Regions from separate parts of the Homo sapiens genome. Here region 2 is linked to region 1. Evidence: fine-mapped expression QTL. A gene starts in region 1. The other region holds a variant in brackets. All regions are shown on one strand. Distances are from middle to middle.

What was found. PIP is the estimated chance that this variant, and not a neighbour inherited with it, causes the effect.
Region 2: its variant is the best candidate, but not a certain one, in a credible set for the expression of MPP7 in left ventricle (GTEx, PIP 0.69).

The regions. Positions count from the first base shown.
Region 1 is chr10:28,293,991-28,309,343 of GRCh38, forward strand. It overlaps MPP7 (MAGUK p55 scaffold protein 7), which reads right to left and starts at 9,074. Exons shown (of 17, transcript NM_001318170.2): 1 at 8,871-9,074. It overlaps MPP7-DT (MPP7 divergent transcript), which reads left to right and starts at 9,179. Exons shown (of 2, transcript XR_930772.3): 1 at 9,179-10,439; 2 at 11,409-12,281. RefSeq lists a silencer at 8,621-9,260.
Region 2 is chr10:28,366,321-28,381,673 of GRCh38, forward strand. No RefSeq gene overlaps it. Among named protein-coding and RNA genes, the nearest start is that of MPP7-DT, 71 kb to the left of the region's middle. The variant A/C (reference allele first, on the strand shown) is at 8,108.

The DNA.
Region 1 (15,353 bases):
GCCGAGAGATGAGATCCCAAAGAATTGCGTTCAAGGGCTGGGCGTGGTGGCTCACGCCTGTAATACCAGCACTTTGGGAGGCCGAGGCGGGCGGATCATGAGATCAGGAGATCCAGACAATCCTGGCTAACACAGTGAAACCCTGTCTCTACTAAAAATACAAAAAAATTAGCCGGGTGCCTGTAGTCCAGTTTAAATATGTTTTAAACTGGAGGCTGAGGCAGGAGAATGGCGTGAAGCCGGGAGGTGGAACCTGCAGTGAGCTGAGATCACACCACTGCACTCCAGCCTGGGGGACAGAGCAAGACTCCGTCTCGAGAAGAACTGCGTTCAAGGTCATCAAATACAAAGTTGTCATAGTACAGGCGACAGTGTGTTCTAAAGATGACTTTCAGGTACTTCCTGTCATTCAGCTCCCAGAAGCAACCTTCAAAATACCTGTTATATAAAATGTAAACTATAAGGGTTATTGTGAGAGTCCAACATACGGTGATTAAAGAATGCAAACTTTTTGAAGGGGAAGAGGGAGGAGGCAGCATCGATATGAATGTGCTATGCCTCTAAAAAATGTTTCTGGAAAATTACTAGGATCCACAAACTTTTCCTTCACTCCTTAAAAAGTAATTGAGTAATCATATTTTTTCCCCAGCACAGTGCCAGGAAATGAGGTTAAGTATTAAATTTTCTGTCTTTGCTTCAATTGTATAAGATGCAGGATCCTATTTATTTTATATACGTACTGTTTTTATGGATAAAAGAAAACATTTATTGCATGCTTGCAATCTGCAAGGCCCTGTTCCCTGAGCTTCTACACATTGGAGCCCACTTACATTCACAACAAAATACTATATTATTTCCACTTTAGAGACGGAACAACAGAGGTTAAGAAACTTGCCTAAAGTCAAAGTACTAGAAAGCAGCAGAGCAGAGATTCAAACCCAGGTCTTTCAAAGTGTTAACCACTACACTTACGTTTCCCCCTAGAGTGGCTGGCCCCTGCAGTGGCTGTAGCACATGGCCTTAGAACTTATTAGAAATGCAAATCGCCAGGACCTCCCCTCCCAGACCGACTGATCAGAAATTCTGGGGCTGGAAGGCAGCTGCCTAAGGTTTCACAAGCCCTCCGTGTGATCCCAAGGTATGCTAAAGTTTGAGAACCACTGGTAGAAATTTTTCATACTAAGCATAATGTGAAAGGTGAAATTACTACCATTTTGAAACTTCTAAAATATAAAATTTGTATCCTATTTAAAATGACTATGAAGAAACGAAAACAGTGTTAGTTCATTTCCTCACTGCTCAACTTCTTTCTCCCAAACTTGACAAAATGCCTAATCTCTATCCTGATTATACTATGTACAAAAAGGGTACTCTGATGAGCGTTAGAGCACAGAGGTCTGAACTCACTCTTCAGAAGTAATCAGAAGCCATAATAGGAAGAGAAAAAAACAATATTTTGAATATCAGCAGAAGCTTGATAAATCTTGGGCCATAACTCCAAATTTTGATCCCAGGCTCAACTCCAAATTTTTACAACATGACTTCAACAGTCTTCCCAATGCCAAAAAAAGAAGTTACAACCCCGAGAAATATTTGATTAACAAGATTCAAACTGCTTTAAGTGCACATACAGAGAAACTGTCCAAGAGTGTGTTTTTATCAGGAGTGAAGCTAAGGAATGCCTAATTACACATCAGACCCTCTGACAATATTCACAGCAAAAGGGGTTAACGTTATCCCTGTCCCTGCACACACCTGCCGTGTACGGCATCCTACCTGATCCTTCTCTTTTCAAAGCTATATCTAGACCGGGAGACTTTTCTCCCCAACTCAAGTACTCAATTTGAGCAGTACAGCTCTATGTGTATTCAAGTTTGCCTATTTCTAATAAGGCCTTTTTTTGTTGTTAAAGGGATGGAAGAAAGAGTATGAGAAATAAGTATATTCAAGCACCTACCATAATCTGAAATCTTCCATAAGCCAAATAACTCTCTGAAGCTATTCACTCGCATACTCAAGTCATTAATTTTATAAATTTCAGGTTTCTACTTATTCCAAAAATTTAAAACATAAAATTGAAGATTAAGGAGTACTTAGTCCAAGCTTGGACCACAGGAGAGCTATAAACCTGTCTTAAAATGCTTAATGACCTGATTAAGGTCATCAAAGGTAAAGAAAACTCTAGGAAGCAGCCTTTTAATCTGCCTGGCTACTTACAACCACCCACCTTTTCCATGCCCACGCTCTCCTAAGGGCTGAAGGCACTGCCAAGAATGACCTTCCTAGAAGGGCTGAATCCTATTTATTTTCTCTCTCCCAAATCTCCACCAAATCCCCTAAGAACTGGCAGTGTTCTGGTAAGAAACAATTTACTATTGCTCTCCTCCCCACCCACAGTTCAGTGCAACTGAAGTGAACACACACACACCCCAACCACTGAAAGACTTTCTCACTTAGATTCCTATCCTGCATTTTCAAAGTCCAAAGTTGTCTTCAAAATATCTTGCAAAATGCAGTCGTACCAGCTAGTCTTTAATCTCCACTAACATTGCCAGTTCTATACCCAAAATGGATATCGCAACTGCTATGTATTTTCATCTCCCTTCTCTAACAATCAGTAACAAGCAACCCAATCAGTAATAAACAAGCCTGACAAATAGCTCCTAAATTCACAGAGAAAAGAATGGTCTCCTCTCTTTCATAAGTAAAGCAAGCTGATAATGTTCTAGTAAATAGAAAGACTAAATGCCTCTTCAAGAAAAAAACATTTATATGCCTGGAAAAAACATCTTGGGTTTTTTTGTTTTTGTTTTTTTACTTAAGTATCTGTTCATAGTAGGTAGCAAATAATCTTTCCACACATATGCACTTTACCAGTTCTTTTAAAGACTCAGTAATCTAAGAAAGCAAAGCATAAGACTATGCTGAAAGAGCTAAGCCGCAGTTTACATAAAATTTAAACAAAACACAAGACATTAAAAAAATTCAACTACTCATAAATAAAGACCAATAAATCTACACTTTGGTCTGGGTTTCTGAACACAGGAAGAATCAGAGGGTTCAATAGGAGAGGTTATTTCTGAAATCGTAGGCATACCTTGAAGATATCACATGTTCCATTCCAGACCACCTTAGTAAAACTAACACTGCAATAAGGTAACAGAAATGTTTCTGCTTTCCAAGTGCATATAGAAGTTATATTTACAGTATACTGTAGTCTATTATGTTGGCAATAGCATTAGCTCTTAATTTTAAAATGCTTTATAATTTTTTTAAAATGCTAGTGATCATCCGAGCCTTCAGGGAGTCATAATCTTTTTGCTGGTGGAGGATTTTGCCTTGATGTTGATGGCTGCTGACTGAACAAGGTGCTGGCTGCTGAAAGATGGATGGCTGTGGCAATTTCTTAAAATAAGAAAACAATAAGGCCGGGCGCTGTGGCTCACGCCTGTAATCCTAACACTTTGGGAGGCTGAGGTGGGTGGACTGCGTGAGCTCAGGAGTTCAAGACCAGCCTGGTCAACAGAGTGAAACCCCATCTCTACTAAAATATAAAAAATTAGCCAGCTGTGGCAGTGTGCACCTGTAATCCCAGCTACTCAGGAGGCTGAGACAGGAGAATCTCTTAAACCTGGGAGGCGGAGGTTGCAGTGAGCCAAGATCGTGCCATTGCACTCCAGCCTGGGCAACAGAGCGAGACTCCGTCTCAAAAAAATAAAAAAAATGAAGTTTGCCACATCAACTCACTCTGCCTTTCAGAAAAGATCTCTCTTTTGGTAGCATTTCACCCACAGTAGAACCTCATTCACAATTGAAGTCAATCCTATCATACCCTGCCACTGCTTTATTAACCAAGTTTACAGAATATTGTAAATCGTTCATTGTCATTTCAACAATGCTCACAGCATCTTCACCAAGAATAGACTCTCTCTCAAGAAGCCACTTTCTTTGCTCATTCAGAAGAAGCAACTCTTCATCCATTCGAGTTTGATAATAAGATTGCAGCAATTCAGTCATATTTTCAGGGTCTACTTCTAATTCTAGTTCTCAGTATACTATTTCCACCACATCTGCAGGTACTTCTTCCACTGAAGTCTTGAACCCCTCAAAGTCATCCATGAGAGCTGGAATCAACTTCTTCTAAATTCCTGTTAATGGTGACATTTTGACCTCCTCCTTTGAATCACAAATGCCCTTAATGGCATCTAGAATTGTGAATCCTTTCCAGGTTTTCAATTTACTTAGCCAAGATCCATCAGAACAATCACTATCTATGGCAGCTATAGCTTTACAAGATGTGCTTCTTAAATAATAACTCTTGAAAGTTGAAATGACTCCTAGATCCATGGGTACAGAGTGGATGTTGTGTTAGCAGGTATGAAAACATTAATTTCCTTGTACATCTCCATCAGAGCTCTTGGGTGACCAGGTGCATTGTCAATGAGCAGCACTTGTTCAATGGTACCCTTTCTTCTGAGCAGTGGGTCTCGACAGTGAGCTTAACAGATTCAGTAAACCACGCCATAAACAGATGTACTGTCATCCAGGCTTTGTCGCTCCATTTATAGAGCACAGGCAGAGTAGATTTTGCATGACGCTTAACAATTTTTGGAATGGTAGATGAGCAGTGGCTTCAACTTAAAGTCACCAGCTGCACTAGCTCCAAACAAAAGAGTCAGCCTGGCCTTTGAGGTGAAGCACTGACTTCCTTCTAGCTAAGAAAGTCCGAGACGGCATCTTCTTCCAATATAAGGCTGTTTCATCTACACTGAAAATCTGTTGTTCAGTGTAGCCACCTTCATCAGTGATCTTAGCTAGATATTCTGGATAACATGCTACAGCTTCTATATCAGCATTTGCTGCTTCACCTTGCACTTTTACATTAGGGAAGCAGCTTCTTTCCTTAAACCTCATGAACCAACCTCTTCTAGCTTCCAACTTTTCTTCTGTAACTTCCTTACCTCTCTCAGCCTTCATCGAATTGAAGAGAGGGTTTTGCTCTGCTGGCTTAAGGGAATGTTGTGGCTGGTCTGATCTTCTATCCAGACCACTAAAACCTTCTCTATATTAGCAATAAGGCTGTTTCACTTTCTTATCATTTGGACGTTCAGCAGAGTAGCACTTTTAGTTTCTTTCAAGAACCTTTCCTTTGCATTCAGAGCTCGCTTGTTTGGTGCAAGAGGCCTAGCTTTTGGCCTGTTTCAGCTTTTGTCATGACCTCCTCACTAAGCTCACTCATTTGTAGCTTTTTGATTTAAAGTGGGAGACACGCGACTCTCCATTCACTTGAATACTTAGATGCCAATGTAGAGTTATTAATTGGCCTAATTTCAATATTGTTGTGTCTCAGGGAATAGGGAGGCCTGGGGAGAGGAAGAGAGTTGGGGAATGGCCAGTTGGTGGAGATATCAGAACATATGTAACATTTATCAGTTAAGTTCACCATATTATATAGGTGCAGTTCATGGAGCCCCAAAACAATTAGAATCGTAACATCAAAGATCACTGACCAGAGATCACCATAACAGACAGAATAACAATGAAAAGTTTGCAATATTGTGAGAATTACCAAAATATGACAGAGACACACAAAATGAACATACACTATTGGAAAAATAGCACCAATCGACTTGCAGGGTTGCCAACGAACCTTCAGTTTGTAAAAAACACAGTATCTTCAGAGAGCAAGCCTGACTAACAATTTCCTTCACTTTAAATTCAAAATGAAGGAATACCCTTTCCTTCCGAATGTATCTCATTTAACAAAATTCAAGACTTTTTTTTTTTTTTTTTGAGACGGAGTCTCGCTCTGTGGCCCAGGCTGGAGTGCAGTGGCACGATCTCAGCTTACTGCAAGCTCTGCCTCTTGGGTTCAGGCCAATTCTCCTGCCTCAGCCTCCCGAGTAGCTGGGATTACAGGCGCCCACCACCACGCCCGGCTAATTTTTTCTATTTTTTAGTAGAGACAGGGTTTCACCGTGTTAGCCAGGATGGTCTCAATCTCCTGACCTTGTGATCCGCCCGCCTCGGCCTCCCAAAGTGCTGGGATTACAGGCGTGAGCCACCATGCCTGGCCAAAACTCAAGACTTAAGTCATTCATTACAATTTTGTCTGAATTGCAATTAGGAGAGAAACAGCTGCAGTACCTTTGTATCTTTGTCAGTGAAATGTTTATAACAAGGAAAAACAAAAATCTGTTTGAAATCTCCAGTAAGCGCCCCCCAGTGCACCATCTAGTGGAAGTCAGGTAGTGTCATAATTAATTTAAAGAAAAAAGTCACAGAAACTCTGAAAACCATTGGGGGAGGGGGAGAAGTCAAAGCTTCAGGTAAGAATACAAGCAAATACTTTACAAACAGCCAAAATATCTTTCCAGTGTCCCACAATGCAAGAGGGCTGGGCTTATGAGAATAAATGATTCATTTTCTGTATAATCAACAGATGATAAAAGTTCCTTTATGGAAATTTTTGCTTGGGTGCTAGAAATTTTGACAGGAGAGTAAAAGTTAAATAAAGCCACTAAAACATAAATAAGTAAATAAATGCTGGGCTAGAGTGACAGCCTTGTGTAAGAAGAGTTGCCTTATATGTTACATGAATATGTTAAAATGTACATGTGAAACAGAGGTATTAGCCACAAAACAAGAGATAACTTCATGATTAGAACAGTTACATTCAGGCTGGGTGCAATGGCTCACGCCTGTAATCCCAGCACTTTGGGAGGCCAAGGCAGGCAGATCACTTGAGGTCAGGAGTTCGAGACCAGCCTGGCCAACATAGTGAAACCCCATCTCTACAAAAATATTAAAAAAAAAAAAATAGCTGGGCGTGGTGGCATGCGCCTGTAGTCCCAGCTACTCAAGAGGCTGAGGCAGGAGAATCACTTGAACCAGGGAGGCAGAGATCACAGTGAGCCACAGCACTCCAGCCTGGACAACAGAGTGAGACTCCACCTCAGAAAAAAAAAAAAAAAGAGTTCCATTCAGTAATCCATAAGACATTTTCATGTTCCTGATAACTAGTAAATTTAACAAAACCTAACGATTCTCTAGAATTCCCTAAGCCTTAACATCATACAAGCGGCTACTCCCAACTACCCATTTCAGCCTGTCCCACACTAATGCCCAAACTCCTTTGGTCAAGTTATTCTAATTAAGAAATTATTCTTCAATCCGTCTATAAATTTACAGTAAACACTTCCCGAAACAAAGTCATAAGTCATGATCAAAATGCATTACACTTCATTAGTATTTTCCTTCTGCATATCAATTATTTCTATTCAATTCAAAAAAAGGTACCGAAATTCAATGCTGAGCTAGAGATGCAAACACAAATAAGGTTCTCTAATTTGGAAAGCTTCCCAAAATTTAAAATAGAGATTTTCACACAGCATTCCTAACTTTTGTTTGTTTTGCCTGTGTGGAAAATTACCTTTCACCTGAAATTCAAACTAGCTAAGCAACCTGAATGGAAAGAAAAACCTCGCAGATAATATTTCTTTACTTGAAAATAACCATCTCCACCTCTGACCTGTGTATACGGGATCAAATTGGTATGCAGAAGTTGGCTTGATGGCGGGAATCTTACCCAGATTTTGGATTAAATCCATTATAGGTATAAAATAAAGTAGGAGTAAAGTGGGGCAGGATTCCTTTCATTTCTAGGGCTTTCAGTTGACATACCTGTAAAATGGACATGCTATGCACAGCCTGCCTCAGAAGAGTAGGAGGATGGCATACTATATAATTGATAGAGTGCTATGAGCTTCACGATTAAATGGAAATACTGTTTTTATAGAACCAGAGTGAACCTGAGCATAGAAAACTCTCCAAGGGCCATCGCTGTGACATTACCGCTAAAACTCAGTGACCTTCATCAATTCACTTGTAAACAAGCAATATATTGAGCAAGTCAAAGGAAAGGCAGCAACAATTCAAGATACTTCTTTATAAGTAAATCAAATTACGTAATTAATAGCCCAGGATTTACCTGCAAACTATTACTGCCTGACTAGCAGGTGCATCCCCAAAGCCTCGAGTACAGAGACTGTTTTTAGAGAGCCCCCCCTTTTTTAAATGTGAATATTGCTTTTAAAAATTAGAAAAAGAAAAAAATCACAATTCTACTCCCACCCATGGCACAGTGACAGAAACAAGGTCCCACCCCCACAATCCTTTCAAACCTGCACAGGCATTCCTCACGAACACTCCTCCCCCTCATTCCTACCTCACCGCTCCCCACTTCAGCCCAGACAAAGCTGAGTTACTCGGCTGGGTCTACCTGTCACTTAAGAAAAAGCCCCCAAATAGATTCACGCTAAATGCTGCTTTTAATTTTTTAAATAGCAAATAAGTAAATAAATAATGCTATCGTGTAGATTACACGGCCAAACGCCTGTTCTCAGAAAACATGTAATTAACACGACCCAAGTGAAGACGCCTTTCTGGCTTAGGGAAAGAAAAAAAAGAAGCCAGCCAGCTTATCGCTCCCTTTCAGTCGGTTCTTTTCCCCGGGGAGCCGGACTCTGACTCAACTCCGCAGTTTTTCCTCCACCTGTCGGTTCTCCCCGCTCTGGGTCTGCCCCGCCGCCGCCCCCGCCCGGAGTCCCGCGCGTCAACAGGGGTCTCCAGGGGTCCTCAGGGTCCCGCCCGAGGCGGCCCCGCCCCTGCCCCGGCCCCGCCCCCACCTCCTCACAAGGTGCCCGCCGCGGGCTCCCAGGCTGAGGCGCCTAGAGGCCGGCAGGAGGCTCCGGAGGACCGCGGCACCGCTCGGCCCGGTCGCCGGCGCAGGGAGCAGCTTCGGGGGCCGACCCCACCGCCCGAGCCTAGCCCTGGGCTCCGACAGGCGCTCCCCAGAGGCGCCCCATTACCTGCTCTGGGCTGCCGCGGTCCGCGGGCAGGAGGCGCACTCGCTCTGGCCCCTGCAGCCCCGGGCCCGGAGGCAAGGAGGCAGCGACCGCCACCGCCGCAGAGGACAATCGGGAGCCAGCGGGCTCGGCACCGCCGCGGCGGGCGCAGAACGCACGAGCCCAGTGGGAGCCCGGCCCCCGCCTCCAGCCCGGCTAGTAACCAACACGGCCCCCACCCTCGGAGGGGCGGGACCGCGGTTGGAGGGGCGGGGCGGGGCTGCACCGCCCGCGGGTAAGAGGGGCCTGCTGATAGGCTGCGAAGGCGATAGGCGTCTCAGACTTGAAGACGCCTCTCCAGCAGAACTCCCTCATTGGTCGGCAAGAGAAAACAAAGCTGGGCTCTGATTGGTGACAGCTCTGTAGCTCCTCCTCATACCCGCAGTCCCCGCAAGTTCCACCCCTGCCCGCCCGGTTCGCTCGCCCTTGGTTCCCACTCCCAGGTGGCTGCAGACTGGAGTGTGTTTCATGGACGAGCAACCTCCCTGAGGAGAACCCCGGATACGCAGGTTCATTCGCCAGATGCGAGTTTTCTTAAGCCGCTGCGATTCTCTGATTTCAGTATGAACTTGGTGAATAACGTAATCTTTAACTTCCTTTGGATTCAGACAAGTCTCCTAGGTTTAAAAATGCTGCATAAGATTGAGAGGGATATTGTTATGCACGAAAAAAGACATAAGGTGTTTTCACCTTTGGCGACACTGTAGGTGACTTTTTCTTATTACCTTTTTGTGTTCCATATTGAACATGTACTACATGATTAGAAAAAAAAATTCTTAAATAGAAAAATGAGTAGGGTGCGGAGAATGGTAAAGACAAACTTTAAGGAAATCCAGAGAACTGATTCTTTCACAATAGAAGAAAATACAGTAAACATGCTTAATATCTGAGGGCTACCCCGAAAAAACATGAACTGGTATCAGCGCCCTTCAGCTCTCTTAAAGAACTTTACATATGTGACCGAGGTGCCCCCATACTCCTTCCTATCATGTAACCAACACATAATGTGGACAGCACTACACTGCAAACAGAATTACAGGAAGACTCTTATAGGAAGAATTAGAATCCAAAGTACACAATCAATAAAGCTTTAGAAAAAGGGGTAGTAAAAAGCAGAAGACAAAAAAAAATCAGGTAATATAAATTGGAAAGCTCAGCTGATGGAGGGAATCATCAGAAAAAAAATAATGTGACAACACTTCAAGATGTGATAGAGACTTTGAATGGAAAGCTGAAGGGAGAGGAAGGGGATTGAGATAAGGATCAATGACCTGCAGTTAATATGAGCTCTCAGAACACATCCCCCAGAACTGGTGTCAGCCTAGAAGGCAAGAAGCATTTCTCACCTAGGGACCACTCTCACTTAACTCTCTCTAGCTGCCTTAACATTCTGTTTGTTCTTGTCATTCTCGCAAAGTTCTAAAACAGGCTATTTGAAATTAAGCACTTCCCCCCAGCAACTCCGTGAATTACGTAATAGTGAAAAATGGAGATAGACAAAAAGCAAACCTGAGGAAGGAAAGGAATGTTAAGGTAAACATAAACTTAAAGAGAAGTAAGGGCAAAACACCTGATAGAAAGAAGACAAGAAATTCTTTTTTCTCTCTTACTTCCTGAGAATAAAGTAAAGGTCTTTGGAGGACAGAATAACCTTATTGCCTAACAAAAAGAGTTTTTACCAAACCTTTCTAATAATAACTGTAATTCTAAACTGTAGTCTAAAAATACGTGTCCTAAAGTAAGTACTTTGAGCAAATAGTTTTGAGATCTAATATTTTTACATTGTGTAAGGAAAAGAAGAGGAACTTAGCCTAGTATGAACAAACTGTAGGGAATACCCTTCAAAAGTTTCTTCTACAATAACACCTGAAATTCCATCACTAACATTCTTTCACTGGGATTAAATAATGTATGTCTAAGATTATTCTTTTATTCATTTACTCATCAAACGTAATCAATATTAATCATCAAATACTAGATACTGCAATGAACGAGGCTTTCTACTAAGCACTCAGAGTATAGCCTTGAACAAGACAGACTTGCAGCTGTTTTTATCAGAAGATGGACAATGATCCAATAAAAAGATAAACTTCCAGACCGGGATCAGGGCAAAGAAGAAAACAGTGACCAGAGGGATGGGAGACACACTTAATTTTGGGAAAGGAGAAAAATGCTTTAAGGAGAAATGATCTAAGAGAAATGCTCTAAGATTTGAGGCACCACCTAAATAAGAAAACACCAACTTAGCAAAACTCCAGGGCAGATAAAATAGCAAGAACAAAGGACTTGAAGTAGGAAGAAAAGTGATGTATAGCAGGAACAGAGAGAAAGCCAGCATGGGTATCATGGTGCATAAGGAGAGTGCTACTAGACAGGTTGGAGAAGGAGGTGAGGACCTCGTAGGCAATGGTAACTTTGTATTTTGTTACAAGGATTCCTGACGGGCAACATCGAGTTGCTGATAGTGGAGTAAAATCATTATTTTTTTTTTTCCTTTTTCAGAGTCACCAGTAAAATGAGCATTCATTCATTAAGCCAATCATCAGGAATGGATCTAGGAAGAACCTACTGTTTACTAGAAATAGGTTAGATCTGTGGATATAACAATGAATAAGACAAGACTGGTGGATCTATAGAGAAACTATTACTGCACAGGTGATGGGGAAATCAAGAGTACTATGGGGCCAAGGAGACTGTCCTGCAGCAAATGAGGAATAAGCTGAAACATCAGTAGGAGCCATCCCAGAGAAAAGGGACAGGGTTCTAGATCCAGAGAACAACAGAAGAGCATTCAGCGCCTGCAAGGGAGCAGGGGATCTAATGCAAAGCCATTGCATAACCAGTCAACTTTCCCCACATCACAAGATTGCCTAGCCTGGATGGCCCCAGAATGTTGAAACAAATGTCTAATTAGTAACGACATTCTGAATGCTTGGGAGCTGAGCAAAATATGAGGAGAAGCAACCTGATTTTTGTTTCATATTATCATCTCCTTTATTCCAGCAACAAAAGACACTGAAAATAGTAAATGCCCACTTTCAACCATGACAGCCCTTTTAGGATAGTAACGGTGAGCAGTATTAATCCTATTTGACCAGAACTAGGGCAGAATTGAAGCCCCTGGAGTAGAGATCTGTTCTATTAGCCCCAGCCTTTCCGCCTGCTTCTTGGGATGGCTATCTTTACTTTATCAGTTGAGCCTCCAGCATTAGCAGATACCTATAAGGGAAGAGATCCAGCCCTCACTATGGAGGGCCAGAAAGAGAAAGCACCAGACATTAGGAAATGTCAAAGTATCTCAGTACATCCAGCTGATTAGTGACAGATAAGTCAAAATTTGCAGCAACTAAATAAATCAAAAAGTAGATTTTAAAATGTGATCTTTGAAATATTTGGCACAATGCTTCAAAGCCACTGAAAAGCTATCTCTTCACCCTAATAGAGGACAGAAATTCATTAGATAGACAGAAGAGGCTGCATACAGTAGCCCATGCCCATAATCTCAACAACTTTGGAGGCCAAGGTGGAAAGATTACTTGAGGCCAGGAAATCAACACCAGCCTGAGCAACATAGCAAGACATCTTTACAAAAAATTTAAAAATTAGCCAGGTTTGGTGGTGTGCAGCTGTAGTCCTAGCTACTCGGGAGGCTGAGGTGGGAGGATTGCTTGAGGCCAGGAGTTCTAGGCTGCAGTGAACAGAGATTTTGCCACTGCGTTCCAGCCTGGGCAACAGAGTAAGACCCTGTCTCTAAAATAGATGATAGATAGATAGAGAGAGAGAGAGAGATGATAGATAATAGATAGTTGATAGATAGATGATAGATAATAGATAGTTGATAGATAGATAATAGATCGTTGATTGATAGATTAGATAGATGTATAATAGAACCCAAAGGCAAAAATAAGTTAGTCCTCAGGAAGACCCAGATCGCAGACCTGAAAAGCCAGGAGGAACTCAATGGAATTTTTTTCCATAGCAGGTGCTCTCTCTACACCTGTGCTCTATTCTCCTATTCTGATAACCAGCCCCTGGCTCCTATGTCCCAGTGTCAGAGAAATGATGTTCCAGAGCTGCACCCACAAGGACTAAATCACCTGCCTAACCCTAACCCTAATCATAGATGATGGGGGCTGCAGGGGACCAGTATGGCTGCCAGGGCCCATCCCTGTTTATGAGCAGAGGTTTCCCAGAGAAGACACACTGGGCAGATTACCAGACACGCATTCATTGCACCCCTGACATTTTCAATCGCCAGTCAATGAGGCTTCCTTTCTAGTTACTGAAAGTCTTCACCTGCTGTTTATAGTAAACTGGAGACCTAGAGGCCAAGGCCGAAGGCTTGGATGGTAATTTCCCACATTCTCTGGAAATCTTTCTACTTCAGTTGGCTTCCAGACACCCAGTACCCTTGTGTGTTCCAGTTTCAAGTTGCCATTCTTGTTCAGGTCTTCTAGTAATTTCCTGTTTCCCTATCTGAAGTGTACCTCCTGACATCAATGTATTCAAAGAGCAAATGCTCCTGCCAAATCTATGAGTGTCAGTGAACTAGCCTGCTGCTCTGGGCTCAGATGAGACCAGCTTGCAGAACAAGCAGGACAGAGGCGTGAAGGGAAGCAGATGGCAAACCTCGATCTGCCACCATCCCTTCCACAGGCATTCCGTATGAGGACATCTGTCCCCACCCCTGGATGAAAACTTGGGTGATCCCGAAATTTTTCTGATTGCTCACAGGTAATAAAAATCATTTGGTCAGTTTAAATCACAATATACAGCTTTAATTTTAATGTAAATGCCATTGATCAACACTTTCAAGCTTCATTCACAGTTAAACTTTCCCTCTGCTTCCCCAGAAAGGGTCCCATGCAGCCAAGCTATGGAACTCCAAAAAGGGGGAAAGGATCCTTCTCTCTATCCCCCTAGAATCCCCTTCAAATTCAGGTTGCAAAAAGAAGGGGGAAGAGTCCAGGACTAGCAAGTTCATGCTTAACTGGTGCATTGCTAGCAGGGGTTGCTCTCCAAGCCTGGACAATGACTAAAATGTGCGCTTCCTTCTTGGGTCTTTTCTTGGGTTCTTAGAGACCTGTACTTGAAACATCCAACTCCACTTCTCTTGACCTGAGCAATGCAATTTTCTCTAACACTTCCCCTCGCTTTCTCATTCCCTGCCAGTCACTTTATAGTCTCCTGTTGCAGGGGAAGAAGGGAAATGGTCGCTAGGCTGCTCCAGGTGATCCTTGTAGGCAGGATTTAAACTCCTTCAGCCCAGCTGTCTCTTAACAAACAGCTGTTATCTGGTCCTTCAGACATTCATCCATACTTTACGCCCATGGTTGGTAAAAGTGCAGCTGGCTGTGTGCAGACTGGTCTTCAGTGTTCTCTCTCTCCACCACTGCCCCACTGCTGCCTCAAGCCAGTATCTTCAGCCTCTCCACTTGAGATTTGTCTCCAAATACCAGGGGACACAAATCAAGTTGCCTTCATGGTCTGCCTCACTGACACTGCCTCTCTAGTGAGTTTAAGGAGAAAGGTCTCAAAGAAGCAGGAGTAACAGAATTGCTTTCTTCAGAGAAAACATCTTCATAGATTCTTTCCTGAACTCCACTTCCTCTGCCCTTTTATGATCCTATTTTGGGTGAGGCACTTTTAAGAGTCACCAAGGGGCTAGGATATTTCCTTTTAAGATTTGCTTCTTGCTCTGACAACTTATTTTGGAATGTCACACCTATTAATTATCTTGGTGTGGTAGTGCACACCTGTAGTCTCAGCTATTCAGGAGGCTGAGGCAGGAGGATTGTTTAAGCCCAGGAGGTTGAGGCTGCAGTGAGCTATGATCACGCCATTGCACTCCAGCCTGGGCAACAGAGTGAGACCCTGTCTCAAAAAAAAAAAGACAACAACAACAAAAAAGAATTTCACATCTATTGTCTCTTCCTGCTTCAGTCAAAACTTTCTTTTTACATTTTTCTATATTGATGTGAATCTGTAAAAACTGCTCTTGTTAATTAACACCAAGGACACGGACTAAGAAAATTGGAAAACTCTAAAACTAGTCAGAAACTGCTATTTGATGATCAATGAGAATGGAACACCCACTCTTGCCTGGATGATTCAAGCCTGAGGATCACTTGACCCAAGGAAGCAGTCTTTATTTCCAGCCTTCAGTTCAGAGATGTGGGGACCCAGCATTCCACATTTAACTTTATGGTCTCCAAGGAAACAGAACTCTGAATCTGTCACACCAGAACTCATGTTAATAAAAATATTACTAAATGTTAAGAAGATACTACTCACATCACCTGAGGTCAGGAGTTCAAGACCAGCCCGGCCAACATCGTGAAACCCCATCTCTACTAAAAATACAAAAATTAGCTGAGCGTGGTGGCAGGTGCCTGTAGTCCCAGCTACTCAGGAGGCTGAGGCAGGAGAATTGCTTGAACCCGAGAT
Region 2 (15,353 bases), 72 kb after region 1:
TTGAGGCTGCTTCTTTATTTCAGTATGTCAAAGCACCATATTTTGGGGTATCGTTTGCTGATCCCCAACATGTATGCAGTGTTTACATATAATTTGCTTCTATCTTTATAGACTGGGGTGTATAATCCAGTGGTTTTCAGATTTGCTTTCATTGTTACTATTTAAAAAGCTAAAGGGTACAACGTTCATTATTTGGGTGATGGGTAAGCTAGAAGTCCAGTCCCACCAGGATGCAACACACCCATGTAACAAACATGCACGTGCACCCCCTGAATCTAAAATAAAATAGCTAGAAGCTGGGCGTGACTGTTCATACCTGTAATCCCAGCACTTTGGGAGGCTTGGGCAGGTGGATTGCTTGAGCTCAGGAGTTCAAAACCAGCCTGGGCAACATAGCAAGACCCCATCCCTACAAAAAATACAAAACTTAACCAGGTGTAGTGGTGCACACCTGTGGTTCCAGCTACTCAGGAGGCTGAGGTGGGAGGATAGCTGGAGCCTGGGAGGTTGAGGCTGCAGTAAGCCATAATTGCACCACTGCACTCCAGCCTGGGTGACAGAGCAAGACCCTGTGTCATAAAAAATAAAAATAAAAATAGATAGAAAGTCTTATAATTTTCTTTTTCTTCTCACCCACCCATGACATTAATCTAGAATTAGGTGGAGCAGGCAAAAGAGGAGAGATTGGGCCCCTGGGAATTTGTACCGAGTCGCAAATGGCTCATGAGTTACTGAGAACCCTCACTGGAGAACACGTGCCTTGTGGAAACCCTCTTGTGATATAAGCAGCAGGGGCACCCCTGCCAGTTTCAAAATCGTGTGACAAATGGACACAGACCTGTGCCCCCCACTGTCAGAGCCTATCTGCTCTCTACAGGGGCTTCCTTTTGAAGAGTCAAGCTTCTTGCCAAGCTATCTTTCAGCCAAAAACCATTTTCCTCTAGTTTACAGGAAAAAGAGGAAGAAAAAGCCCACCCATCCTTTTCTGGGTTGATTATTTTCCATTTGAAATTAACGAGCTTCCCACGATGAAGCCAAGTTGTTTTGTTCGGATAATGAAATTGCATTTTTGCTTCACACGCAGCAATTCAAACTAACGTGGGCTCCAGCCATTTAGGGAACAGGTCCTTAGTATGGCCAGAAAGAAGGAATGCTACTGTTTTACAGAGATAAAAGTTACATTCAAATTCCTCTCTGAATTTCCCTGCGTATCATGGACAGACAAACTTACAGAGAGACTTTGTTTGTTTTTTGTTTTTTGAGACAGTTCTTTCTCTGTCGCCAAGGCTGGAGTGCAGTGATGCAATCGTGGCTCTCTGCAGCCTTCAATTCCCAGGCTCAAGTCATCTTCTCAGGTTCCCGAATAGCTGGGACTACAGGTGCAGCACCATGCCCGGCTAATTTTTTTACTTTTGTAGAGACAGGGTCTCACTATGTTGCCGAGACTGGTCTCAAACTCGTGGCCTCAACTGATCCTCCCGCCTCAGCCTCCCAAAGTACTGGCATGAGCCACTTTGCTTGGCACAGAAATACTTTAAATATTTACCCAGGATATTTCAAATATGAATCTGTACTTGACGTGTCTACAAGTGGCTGGCTAGTGTTTCCAAAGACGCACTGAAAACGTTGAAAAAATAAAATGGCGACTCCGGATAAGGTATCTGTCACCATGCTATGTTGCACAGAATGCTCACAGGAAAAGCCACACTGCTCTGTGACATTATGATCAAGGAACACGTGCTGAGTGGAGGCTCAGACCATATGGGCCTGTGCATATGGTAATCATTAAAGACTCACAGCTTACAAGAGTAACTGACAGAAAAAATATATATAGTGAGAGTCTCAGTGGTATAAATTCCTCTCTAGACCTCCCACCATATGGGGATATTTAAGTCAAAAGAATTAAGCATCAGAGCTAGAAGCTATTCCTGCACACAAGTAGAAACTACTTTCAGTGAGCAGAATCAGGAAATACGATGACTTGTCTACTCAGGCACATACTTAAAGAAAGTACCCAAACCGAAGGAACTAGAAAGACTTTCGCTTCTTTTGAAAAGAAGGGAAGTGGTGAGTGAGCTTCGGCATTCAGCCCCACCCAAAGAGCTCCCCAGACCTGGGCCACAGTGTCAGGAAATTGCAGCAGAGAGTTCAGAGAGACAGGACTAGGTCCAGCAAAGGAAAAATGATTAAGGGGTCAAAGACAGGGATAAAAGTGGCTTTTTTTCCCCAAATATTGAGTTGGAGTCTTTATTTTTATTTTGTATTTTTATTTATTTTTATTTTTTGAGACGGAGTCTCGCTCGTTAGCCCAGGCTGGAGTGCAGTGGCACAATCTCAGCTCACTGCAACCTCTGCCTCCTGGATTCAAGCAATTCTCCTGCCTCAGCCTCCTGAGTAGCTGGGATTACAGGTACGCACCACCACACCCAGCTAATTTTTGTATTTTTGGTAGAGACGAGGTTTCACCATGTTAGCCAGACTGGTCTTGAACTCCTGACCTCATGTGATCCACCTGCCTTGGCCTCCCAAAGTGCTGGGATTACAGGCATGAGTCATCCTGTCTGGCCAACTTGGAGTCTTGAATGAAAAATAAGAGATACATTTTCAAATTCATGCAAAGTGCAAGCATTTATCTTTGGTAAGCATGGGTTTGCAATCTGAAGAATCTGTAGATTTTTCAGGTGAAGATGAGCAGAGTAGGAAGCAAATATTGTACTTTGACCGATTTTTTTTTTTTTTTTTTTTTGAGACGGAGTCTCACTCTGTCACCAGGCTGGAGTGCAGTGGCACAATCTCAGCTCACTGCAACCTCCACCTCCTGGGTTCAAGCCATTCTCCTGCCTCAGCCTCCTGAGTAACTGGGACTACAGGTGTGCACCACCGCACCCAGCTGATTTTTTTGTATTTTTAGTAGAGACGGTTTCACCATGTTGGCCAGGATGGTCTCGATCTCCTGACCTTGTGATCCACCTGCCTTGGCCTCCCAAAGTGCTGGGATTACAGGCGTGAGCCACCGCGCCCTGCTGGCCAATTTGATTTTAAGCAAAAGGTTTCATTTTGTTACATACCTCACCGTGCTCTGGCCACATCCTAGAAGATGGTGACACCATAAGAAGGGGCCAGAACACATCCTGAAGCAATATACTAGTCACTGTCACCTTCACCCCCATGCCTCAGAAAGTAAATTTACACCCCACCAGGGAGCAAAATTACACTCACATACACAAAACATGAAACGCCGAAGCATCCTATTGTGGAAGTCAGTTTTAACATAAGAAGAAAAGTCTATGCCTTCAAGAAATATTTATTAGGGCTGGGCCCAGTCCCTCATGCCTGTAATCCCAACACTTTGGGAGGCCAAAGTGGGAGGATCACGTAAGGCCAGGAGTTTGAGACCAGCCTGGGCGACATAGCAAGACTCCATCTCTAAAAAAATAAAATAAAAATTAGCCAGACAGGGGCTGGGCGCGGTGGCTCACACCTGTAATCCCAGTACTTTGGGAGGCTGAGGCAGGTGGATCACGAGGTCAGTAGGTCTCTACTAAAAATACAAAATTTAGCCAGATGTGGTGGTGCGCATCTGTAGTCCCAGCTACTCGGGAGGCTGAGGCAGGAACATTACTTGTACCTGGGAGGCGGAAGTTGTAGTGAGCCGAGATTGTGCCACTGCACTCCAACCTGGGTGACAGAGTGAGACTCCATCTCAAAAAAAAAAAAAAAAAAAAAATTAGCCAGACATGGTGGTGCACACCTGTAGTCCCAGCTACTCAGGAGGCTGAGGTGGGAGGATCACTTGAGCCAAGGAGTTTGAGGCTGGAGTGAACTATGACCACAGCACTGCACTCCCTTCTGGGCAACAAACCAAGGCCCAAAGAAAGAAAGAGAAAGAGAGAGGGAGGGAGAAAGAGAGGATGGAAGGAAGGGAGAAAGAGAGAAAGAGAAAGGAAAGAGGGAAGGAGGGAAGGAAGGAAGGAATGAAGGAAGGAAGCAAGCAAGCCAGGTGGTGGGTAGTGGAAACAGTGAGTGCAAAGGCCCTGGGGTAGGAGGTATGTGCTTGAGGAACAGCAAGAAGGCATGCAGGGCTGGAGTGGAGTTAGTAACAATGAGTTCATTTCACCTGAAGTCTCCCTTTTAAGCAATGAAATTGAATGCCAAAGAAGTGAATTACCTAATTAATTGTAGCTTCTATCCAAAATGATAAGTGGTAGCAAACCTGAATTCACACCCTCAGTCCTTGGCAGAACCATGCTAAGTCTTCTGGGACTGTTGCTAGTCCATCTGGTGCCTTTGGGCAAATTAGAAAATGGTGTTCCTTCCTCCAGGCAAAGGCCGCTGCATGACCAGGTGCACTACTTGGCAGATGGTGCTTGGCCTGGACTTCACCTGTCATTTGCCCCCACAGTCAGGCACTCTCAGCTGGGCCCAAACTGCACAGCAATATGCATTGGCCAGAATCAACAGCATCTTTTCCATACTGTTATATCTCCCCTAGTATTGATCGAATCATTCCCCAAGCCAATGGTTTCAAGTTTGAACTCTTAGTTAATTCTCATCATATAGTTCATTTTGCAAGAGGTGTGCAGCACCATGCTGCTTTGAACCATTTGGTAGGTGTTGCAAATAGTTGAATGGTGGAAAAGTTGAATCTGTTTGGCCACAGATGGACTGTAAGATGTGTATTGGATTCCCTTTGCTGCTGTTAAAAATTAATGCAAACTTAGTGACTTAAAACAACACAAATTTATTATCTTATGCTTTTGGATGTCAGAACTCCCAAATTCAAGGTGTCAGGAGTTGCATTGCTTCTGGAAGCTCAGTGGGACAATTCATGTACCTGCCTTTTCTGACTTCTAGGAGCTGCCTGGATTCCTGGACTCCTTGACCCTTCCTCCAGTTTCAAAGTCAGCAATGCAGCACCGTCAAAGGGTTCTCTCTCCCTCTCTGTCACACACACACACACACACACACACACACACACACACACACACTCACCCCTGCTTTCATCATCAGGTTGCCTCCTCTGACTCAGACCCTCTGCCTCCCTCTTATAAGAACCCTTGAGATGACACCGAGTCTGCCTGAATAATCCAGGAAAATCCAGGATAAGCTCGCCATTTGAAGATCCTACATCTAAAAAGTCCCTTTGTCACATTCGGTGACAAGGCAGCGTCTGGGAATTAGGATGTGGACATCTTTCGGGGGCATTATTCTTCTGACCACAAGATATAATAAAAAAGTACACTCCCTGAGAAGGCCCCTTGTTTGACACTGTTCCTGGCCTTAAGAATTGTTTTAGATGTTCATTCTTCACCTCTTGAAGGCTTTCTGATTTTTAAAGAATTCACTGATAAAAGACAAATGCTGTTGGGAGCACCATTCATGGTAGCAAAGATATGGAATCAAACGGTGCCCATCAGTGGTGGACTGGATAAAGAAAATGTGGTGCATATACACCATGGAATACTATGCAGCCATAAAAAAGAATGAGATCATGTCCTTTGTACAACATGCATACAGCTGGAGGCCATTATCCTAAGTGAATTGATACAGGAACAGAAAACCAAATACCACATGTTCTCACTTGTAAGTGGGAGCTAAACATTGGGTATATGGGGACATAAAGATGGCAACAATAGATGCTGGGGACTACTAGAGAGAGGAGAAATGAGGAGGGCAAGGGTTGAAAAACTATTGGGTGCTATGCTCACTACATGGGTGATGGGATCAACTGTACCCCAAACCTCAGCATCACACAATATACCCAGATAACAAACCTGCACATGTACCCCCAAATCTAAAACAACAGTTGAAATTTTTAAAAATTAAAAAAATAACCCAAATGCTTCTGGGAGGGAGAACATGTTAAGTGTTATCTGTTAAGACTTGAGAGAGACGAAAAAGACCCAGGGAAAGAATTAGAGAATGTAAGGAGGGGTGTTTGGGCACTACGGGCAAAAAAAATAATTAATTTTCAGTTTTGGCCAAGAGCTAACTTGCCGCCTTAGAAAGAGCAACGCGTCTGGGAATAAGGAATCTCAAATTCTAGTCACTAATTAGTCGTTAATTGCAGAAATTGCATTTAGTATCTTTGTGTCTTTCCTCACGATGAACTGAGAATAATAGCTAATCCCTTGGGCAGTGAGATGACACTTAAAAACCTGAAGTAGAGCTGGGCACAGTGGCACACGCCTGAAATCTCAACTACTTGAGGGGCTGAATCGGGAAGATCCCTTGAGGCCAGGAATTTGAGACCAGTCTGGGCAACAATGTGAGACTCTGCCTCTTAAACCTTTTTTTAAATTCACCATGTGTGCTGGTGCACATCCGTAGCCCTAGCCACTTGTAAGGCTGAGGCAGGAGGATCACCGGAGCTCAGAAGTTTGAGGCTGCAGTGAGCTGTGATCGTGCCACCATACTCCAGCCTGGGCAATAGAGCAAGACCCTGTCGTAAACAAAAAACAAAACAAGAAACAACCCTGTATGTAAAAGCCCCTAGAAAAGCTTAACAAACTAGCAAATATTCCTTTTGTGATAGGTCTTTGACATACACCATCTCTTTTCATGCTCGGAAGTGCTATTTGAAGCAGGTGCTATCATGACCCTCATCTGACAGGTGAGGAGACTGAGGCTTGGGCTAAATAACCAGAGAAAGGTCATGCAGCGAGGAAGTAGCAGAACTGGGATGTGAACCTGGAATTATGTAACTTCAGGGTCGCTACTTTCTATCACTATAAAGTATTCTGCCTGCAGGCTGGGCCCAGTGGCTCACGCCTGTAATCTCAGCACTTTGGGAAGCCAAAGCCAGCAGATGGCTTGAGTCCAGGAGTTTGAGACCAGCCTGGGCAACATAGCGAGACCCCATCTCTACTAAAATTACAAAAATTAGCCGGGCATGGTGGCGCACGCCTGTAGTCCCAACTACTTGGGAGGCTGAGGCAGGAGGATTGCTTGAACCCGGGAAGCAGAGGTTGCAGTGAGCTGAGATTGCACCACTGCACTCCAGCCTAGACCACAGAGTGAGACTCTGTCTCAAAAAAAAAAAAAAAGAAATATATATATATACACACATATATATACACACATATATATACATATGTATATATATATGTATGTATATATATATATATTCTGCCTGTAAAACCTAGGTGGGAAATCTGGAGACAGCATTTGGGTGAGGTCATGGCAAGGTGGCAGAGAAAACAAAGCAAGCTCGTATTTTAAAATTCCAAAAGGGGGCAATTCCAAGGTGGTTGATGTTTGAAAGAATATAGTTTAGGATTTGGCATTGTGAGCCATTTTAAAATCCAGGCAAAAGAGATGGAAATTAGCAGCACCTGCTCTTCCCTGGGTCCCCTGCCTCTCCCTGGGTCCCCTACCTCTCCCTGGGTCCCCTGCCTCTCCCTGAAGCCTCTGAAGAGACCCCCAAAAAAGGCCAATTTCAGGAGCCACACAGTTATTTTGTCTGTTAAATTATCAAACACTCACATCAGGACTCTAGAAAAGAAGAAAAGGAAAGAATAAAATCTTGAAGATATCAGAAGAAAGAATTTATGAATGAAAAATTACAAACCAGGCCATCATTTAAATAAACAAATACATTCGAATGGAGTTATTTGAATAAGAAAACTCCTCCATCGACATAGTCTAATTTATGAAATTGTCACTGAGAAAAACATAAATGAAAGAAGAAAAATTGTAAGAAAAAAATCAAAATCATTGGAATAGATTAGACAAATAAGAGACCATTATGGACAATTTATATTTTAAAATAGACAAATGCACATTTTCAAAAAATTAACAGCAGAAGAGATACAAAACTGGAAAAAAAAAAACAAAACAGGAATGTATTTCCCTGACCTGGGTCCCACTAAATCCTCCCATGAACATTCCAATGAGAACACAGTTTCCATCTCTGTAGCTTGAACTCCTACCCTTGGCTTCCTCCCTTTCTCCATCCACCCTCTCTTTGCCCAGCACAGACCCCACCTCACCCCACAGCCCTTCCTGCACCGCCACCCCATCCCATCCGCCCCTCCAAAGCTACCCTGGCATCTTGTGGAACTCAGGCTCAATTATAAACAAGTTTCCTTACAAGTTAATGTATTCT[A/C]TTAGTCATTTACTTTTTAAACTATTGTGTTAATTGTGAATAAAACAGAGCAAAATCCTTGTTCTCTGATAACTTACATTTTAGTTGTGGAAGGCTGATAATTATAATTATGATATAAATATATAGGTACAAGTATTATACATAAAATATATAAATATATAATATAATGCATAATACATAAATTCATAATCAATATATTTCCAAATGGTTAGCATTTCACCATTCAGGTGCACTTACCCTTCTGAGACCTTACAACTACACAAGTTCTGTCTGCACACAGGAGAAATTTTATTCTGGAACTCAGCTAAATGCTACTTGAAATTTTTTTTTTTTTTTTTTAACGGAGTCCCTGTCACCCAGGCTGGAGTACAGTGGCACTATCTCAGCTACTGCAACCTCCCCCTCCCAGGTTCAGGCAATTCTCCTGCCTCAGCCTCCCAAGTAGCTGGGCCTGGCTAGTTTTTTGTTTGTTTGGTAGAGACAGGGTTTCACCATATTTGCCAGGCTGGTCTCGAACTTCTGACCTCCAGTAATCTGCCTGCCTTGGCCTCCTAAAATGCTGGGATTACAGGCATGAGCCAACGCGCCCGGCCTAAAAACACTTTTTTTTTTTAAAGGTGCAATCCGCCATGTGACTTTCTCTTAGTATTGAATATTTTTGTTGCATTAGTTTTAACTTGATGTTGGAATGTTATTCCTGTAGCAGAAAATACTACACAGCTGTCAACTGTGTTCCTTAGTGCCTAGCCAGAAAAATATTTGGAGGCTATTTCAAAAGTCCTTCTTCATTTATGTGGCTTTGCTGATCAACTTTTCAATCAACTACTGAAATTATAGTTTCCAGTGAAGAGAGAGAGAGGGGGTAAAGTGGTGGGAAGTAACCCATCTAGATGTGCAATAATATCAGAAAGAATTTTCGAAGAATTTATTTGGATTCTAGAAGATAAAAGGAACTATCTCATTCTCATTCAAAAAGATTCTCAGAACAGTGAAGACTTTTAAAATACATGTGTTTCTCTCTCCCCCCCACACACAAAAAAACGTTAAAAAAAAAAATCATAATCAGTTGGTGATAAGGCAACCGGAGAAAAATAAAGCAGGCACTGAGTCTCCTTAGCGCTAAATTTCTGGCTGCCTGAAATGCTGTCAACAATTGCTGGATGGAGTTTCTTCTGCCTCCACCCCCTGCATTTTGCCAAGGTCACCTATCACACCTTTACCTAATTATCTAGAGCAAATATAGTTCACATGTAGATATAGTAATGCATTTAATCCCTATAACAAGCCCATGAGGTAGATATTATTATGTCAATGTCACTTTTTTTTTTTTAACATACACAGAAACTGAGATACAGAAATTAAGGACATTTCTTAAGGCATCACAGATAGAAAGTGGCTGAACTGGAATTTCAAGCCCAAATGCCTGTCTCCAGGGTTCCTGCACTTTACCACTTCAAGTCTGTCCACACTCCCGCTGAGTCATCTCACAGCCACTCCTCCAACTGACCTCCTCTGCTTCAAAATGTTGAGGTATGTTCAGTCTTCCCTATATTTAGAAGTTGTCATTCCTCTTTTCCAAGCCTCTTTTCCTGTGCCTTTACCCTACTTTGTACCTCCAATTATATACCCTTCTTTTACGAGGCACTGTCGTAAAAATTAATATGCCACGTTTTTGCCCTGCTTAGTACATGAACCCTTGCTTTAGTTGTCCTGAGGGATCTGTAAACCTGGAAGGAGATTAAGATTATTGTCACCAAAGCAGGCCGGGCATGGTGGCTCATGCCTGTAATCCCAGCACTTTGAGGAGCCAAGCGGGCAGATCACTTGAACCCAAGAGTTCAAGACCAGCCTGGGGCAACATGGTAAAGCCCTGTCTCTACAAAAACTACAAAAATTAGCTGGGCGTGGTCATGTGTGCCTGTAGTCCCAGCTATCTGGGAGGCTGAGATGGGAGGATCGCTTAAGGCCAGGAGGTAGAGGCTACAGTGAGTCGTGATTGTGCCACTGCACTACAGCCTGAGCAACAGAGTGAGATCCTGTCTCAAAAAGAAGAAAAGATGGTTGTCATCAAAGGAATGGCAACAATTTCTAAAGAGAGTCATGGGTCATCCCCTGTAGCCCCTACTCTTGCCCACCTCCATCCCTGCATTTAATCCGCTAGGCTCTATGGAATCAGCTCACAAAGGTCTATTGTGCGAGAAAGCCCTAAGCAATGTAAGGTTTAGCAGAGCTCCAGGGGACCAAGCCAGGAAGCAGGAGAAGGGGGCAGTGGGTGGGGAACTGTGAGAAGAGGAGAGAAAGGCGTAAGGCTGGGTGATTCTGTGTTCTAATGCTCCCCTTCCAGGCTCTGCCCTGGAAAAGGGGAAGAGGTCAGAGGAGAGGCTCCTGCCCACTGCCCATTTAGGACTCCAGGGGTTCAAAGGTGTTACACTGTGAGATTCAGCCACATCAATTGGCTTCCATGAACAAACTCCATCACACCCTCCCTATCTTTCTCATTTCCTCTTCTGATTTTTTACCTCTTCTTCCATCTCTCCTAGTTCCACTTCCGTCTTTCAGTCTTTGCATGCGGGTGTTCTCCAAAGTTTTGAACTCAACACTTTTGTGATCTCATTTTTTTTCTTATGATATGAACTGTCACCTGTAGACAGATGTTCCCTAAATCCAGATGTCTGGTTATAACTTCTCTCTTTTGAATCTCTGTATTGTATCTCAAGCCCTCTTAGATACTTCCACCTGTTCTCTTTGCCTGTAACTTCAATTTGATACAATTAAACCCACATCTATTCCTGCCACCTTCCAAACCATCCTTCCTTCTTTCCTGTAAATGTTAAGGGCACCACCACTCTTTGTAAATTTCCCTACTTTCTATGTTGAGTGAAAATCTTCAAACCATTCCAACACACGTTTACAATAACTTAGTAAAATGCCCAACACATATAATTACTATATGCCAGATGCCAAAGGCTTTCCATATAGTAATACATTTAATTCTCACCACAACTCTATGAGACTGCTACTATTATTACTACCATTTTATGGCTAAGTAAACTGAGGCATAGAGAGGTTGTCACCCAGCTAGTTAATGGCAGATGTTGGCATTTGAACCCAGGCAGTCTGGTTCTGCCATGTATTCTTAATAGATGTCTGTATTCTTTTATTTTTTATTTTATTTATTTATTTATTATTTTTTTTGAGATGAAGTCTTGCTCTGTCGCCCAGGCTGGAGTGCAGTGGCACAATCTCAGCTCACTGCAACCTCCACCTACTGGGTTCACACCATTCTCCTGCCTCAGCCTCCCGAGTAGCAGGCACTACAGGTGCCCACCATCATGCCTGGCTAATTTTTTGTATTTTTAGTAGAGATTGGTTTTCACCGTGTTAGCCAGGTTGGTCTCGATCTCCTGACCTCGTGATCCGCCCACCTTGGCCTCCCAAACTGATGAGATTACAGGCGTGAGCCACCATGGCCAGCCGACGTCTGTATTCTTAATTCTTATTACGTAATAAGGCCATGTTAAATAAAAAAACTGATATAAAATTGTATACATAACATAATCACAACTAGTAAAACACACAAGCAAAACACAATGTAAATAATTAGGTAAAGAAAAAAGACAAGAACGAAATATACCAAGATATCAATAGTGGCTATACTGGTGCAAAAAGGACTGAGAACAATTTTATTTTTTATCCTCTATTTTTTTTTATTTTTCCAAATTTCCTATTATGGGTATAATAGTTATAATGAAAAATAAATTAATACATTTTATTTTTAAGTGACTGCAATCAATTGAAACATGGAAATACAATTGTGGCATACTTCCCTCTCTCCAACAAAAAAATAACTTATACATCTGAATCTTGCATTCAACTTCACCATTCTAGTTCTGGCTATTATTTTCTCCCACCTACTTATAGACTCTTATATTTATAACCATCCTACATGCTGGATTAATCTTTTTTTTTTTTTTTTCTCTCTGAGACAGTCTTACTCTGTCACCCAGGCTGGAGTGCAGTGGCATGATCTCGGATCACTGCAACCTCCGCCTCCTGGGTTCAAGCAATTCTCCTGCCTCAGCCTCCCAAGTAGCTGGGACTACAGGCAGCGCCACTGCACCCAGCTAATTTTTGTATTTTTAGTAGAGGCCGAGTTTTGCCATGTTGGCCAGACTGGTCTTGAACTCCTGACCTCAGGTGATCTGCCTGCCTCAGCCTCGCAAAGTGCTAGAATTATAGGTGTGAGCCACCGCACACAGTCTGGATGAATCTTTTAAAGGCAATGTTTTCTTTATATCACTTCTCTATTCAAGAGATTTCTACCTTCCTGTTAGTCATGGAATTCTACTCAGGCTCTTTAGCCTGGCATTGAATTTGTCCGCAAGCTGGCCCTAACCTTCCCTGCAACCTTTTCTCCCATTTTTTCCCTGTATGTTTCCCATGATCCTATCAGTTTCATTTCGTTTCTTTTGCCTTGGTCTCTTCTAGTTCCATGCAGCTCCTCAGGTGGCGAGGTAGCCCTGACAGAGGTACATCAGCAGCCTGCACCCAACTTCTGGAGTGTTTTGGATTGGCTTATGCTTCTCAGGGACCCAAGTCCACTGGCCTGGTCAGATCTCCTGTGCTCCTGAGCATGGCCCTGCCCAGTAGCCTTCCCTGTCAGTCAGTGCTGGGAGCCAGGGAGCCAGGAGGAAGTCAGGAGGGAGCCTTCCTTCCAGAGCATTGCCAACCCTCTTCCAGACGAGCAATCTGCCTAGTTTGTGGGTTCGTTCTGCTCTTTGTGTTCTATTTTTCTTCACGTTTTTCTGGCAGAAATGATGGCTTGGTGTTCTGCACAAGTCTAGCCAGGTTCAAGCTGGATCCTTCCCAGCCCTCTTGACTTCTGTATTAGACTAACAACTCAATTTCCGAAGCATAGGACTCTGCTCATTGAATTGGACCTCACTGAACGACCTGACCCATGCCCAAGGACACTGGGTCCTAGAGATCGCAGGACTTGAGCTACTTAAGTGTCCGCGCTGAGCCCTGGCTCTGCTGCCTCAGAACCTCTCTTCCAGATCTGCCCCATCACCCTGCCAGCCTGCATTGCCAAAATTGCATGTCAGGGTAACTGGGAGCTTTTCTGAGATTAAAGTTTCTCCCAAAATATATCCTCCTCAATCTTTCCTGCCCCTTGAGCCTTGGATTATGTCGTTCCTTTTGCTCAGAACTCTCCTATGAACACTTATAACTTTTCTGCCTTTTTTTTAAACCCCCTTTTTATTGAGACAGGGTCTCACTCTGTCTCCCAGGCTGGAGTGTGGTACTGTGATCATGGTTCACTGCAGCTCCAAATTCCCAGGCTCAAGCCATCCTCCCACCTCAGCCTCCCAAGTAGCTGGGAGCACAGTGGCATATGCCACCAGACCCAGCTAATTTTTTTTTTTTGTAGAGATGGGGTCTCACCATGTTGCCCAGGCTGGTCTTGAACTCCTAGGCTCAACTGATCCTCACGCCTTGGCCTCCCAAAGTGCTGGGCATGAGTCAGTGTGCCTAGCCTAAAAAAATGTTCTTTTATTGTGGTAAAATATACATAATATATAATTTACTATTTAAATAATTTTTAGGGCAGAGCTCGGTGGTTCACACCTATAATCCCCAGGGCTTTGGGAGGCCAAGGAGGGAAGATTACTTGAGGCCAGGAGTTTGAGACTAGCCGGGGCAACATAGCGAGACCCTGTGTCTATTATACATAAAAATTAAAGTAAAAACAAAATTAGCTGGCATGGTGGTGGTACCTGTAGTCCTAGCTACTCAGGAGCCTGACATGGGAGGATGGCTTGAGCCCAGGAGTCTGAGGCTGCAGTGAGCTATGATCACGCCACTGCACTCTAGCCTGGGCAGAGTGAGATCCTTTCTCAAAAAAAAAGGAAAAGAAAAAAAGAAAAATTAATCATTTTGAAGTATATAACTCAGTGGCATTAAGTACCTTCACAGTGTTACACAACCAACCTTCACCATATTCATTTCCAGAACTCTTTCATCATCCCAAACAGAAACTCTGTACACATTAAACAATAGCTCTCCATTTCCTCTCCCCACAGCCGCTATAACCTTTAATCTGCTGGTTTTTTTTTTTTTTTTTTTAGACAGGGTCTCCTCTGTCCCGCAGGTTGAAGTGCAGTGGCGTGATCTCAGCTCACTGCAACCTCTGCCTCCCGGGCTCGAGTGATCCTCCCACCTCAACCTCCCAAGTAGCTGGGACTACAGGCGCACACCAACACATCCAGCTCATTTTTGTATTTTTCATAGAGATGGTGTTTCACTATGTTGTCCAGGCTGGTCTCAGACTCATTAGCCCAAGCAATCTGCCCAACTCAGCCTCCCAAAGTGCTGGGATTACAGGCATGAGCCACCATGCCTAGCCTTTAGTCTACTTTTTGTTTCTATGAATTTGCCTACTCTTAAGTACCTCATATAAGTAGAATCATACAATATTTGTCCTTTTGTGTCTGGTTGTATTAGGGTTCTCCAGAGAAATAGAGCCAATCGTAGATAGATATAGGCAGAGACAGAAAGAAGGAGATTTATTATGAGGAATTGGCTCATGATCTTATAGAGGCTAAGAAGTCAGCCGTTTGTAAACTGAAGACCCAAGAAAGCTCTTGTGTATTTCCAAACTGAGTCTGAACGCCTGAGAACAAGGGGAATCGATGGTGTAAAGCCCAGTCCAGAGACAGGAAAAAGACCAACGTCCCCTCATGCTCATCCCAGAATAAACACCCAGCAAATATTTAATGTATTAAATACATGAGACGTTAATGAGTGACTCTAACAAATACAAATCAGAATCCTTCATTTTTTGACATTTGTATTGAAAGCGCCTAGTTTTTACTTACTAATTTCTACAATTTTTTTATTTTAAAAACTCTTAAAGAAGCATGTGTATATTATCTGATGTCGTTTTGCCAAAAATAATAATCTATTACAATCCTATAATAAGCTAGATATTATCTAATTATTCTATTAGGTTGAAATAAGCCAATGTTTGTCAGAAGGAAAAACTGACCCATGTAAGTGTTTATTTCAAGGGTTTTTCTTAACTGTGGATATCTGATCTTTGAGAGCTGCTGGTTTTAATTCTCATGCATCCTTCTGAGAAGTCACATTCTCAGAAGTTATTTAATTATGGAAAATGAAGAAGCCATAGGCTTATAGCATGAAATTCTAAACCTTGCCTGTCATAAATGTTGCTCAACAAAAGTTT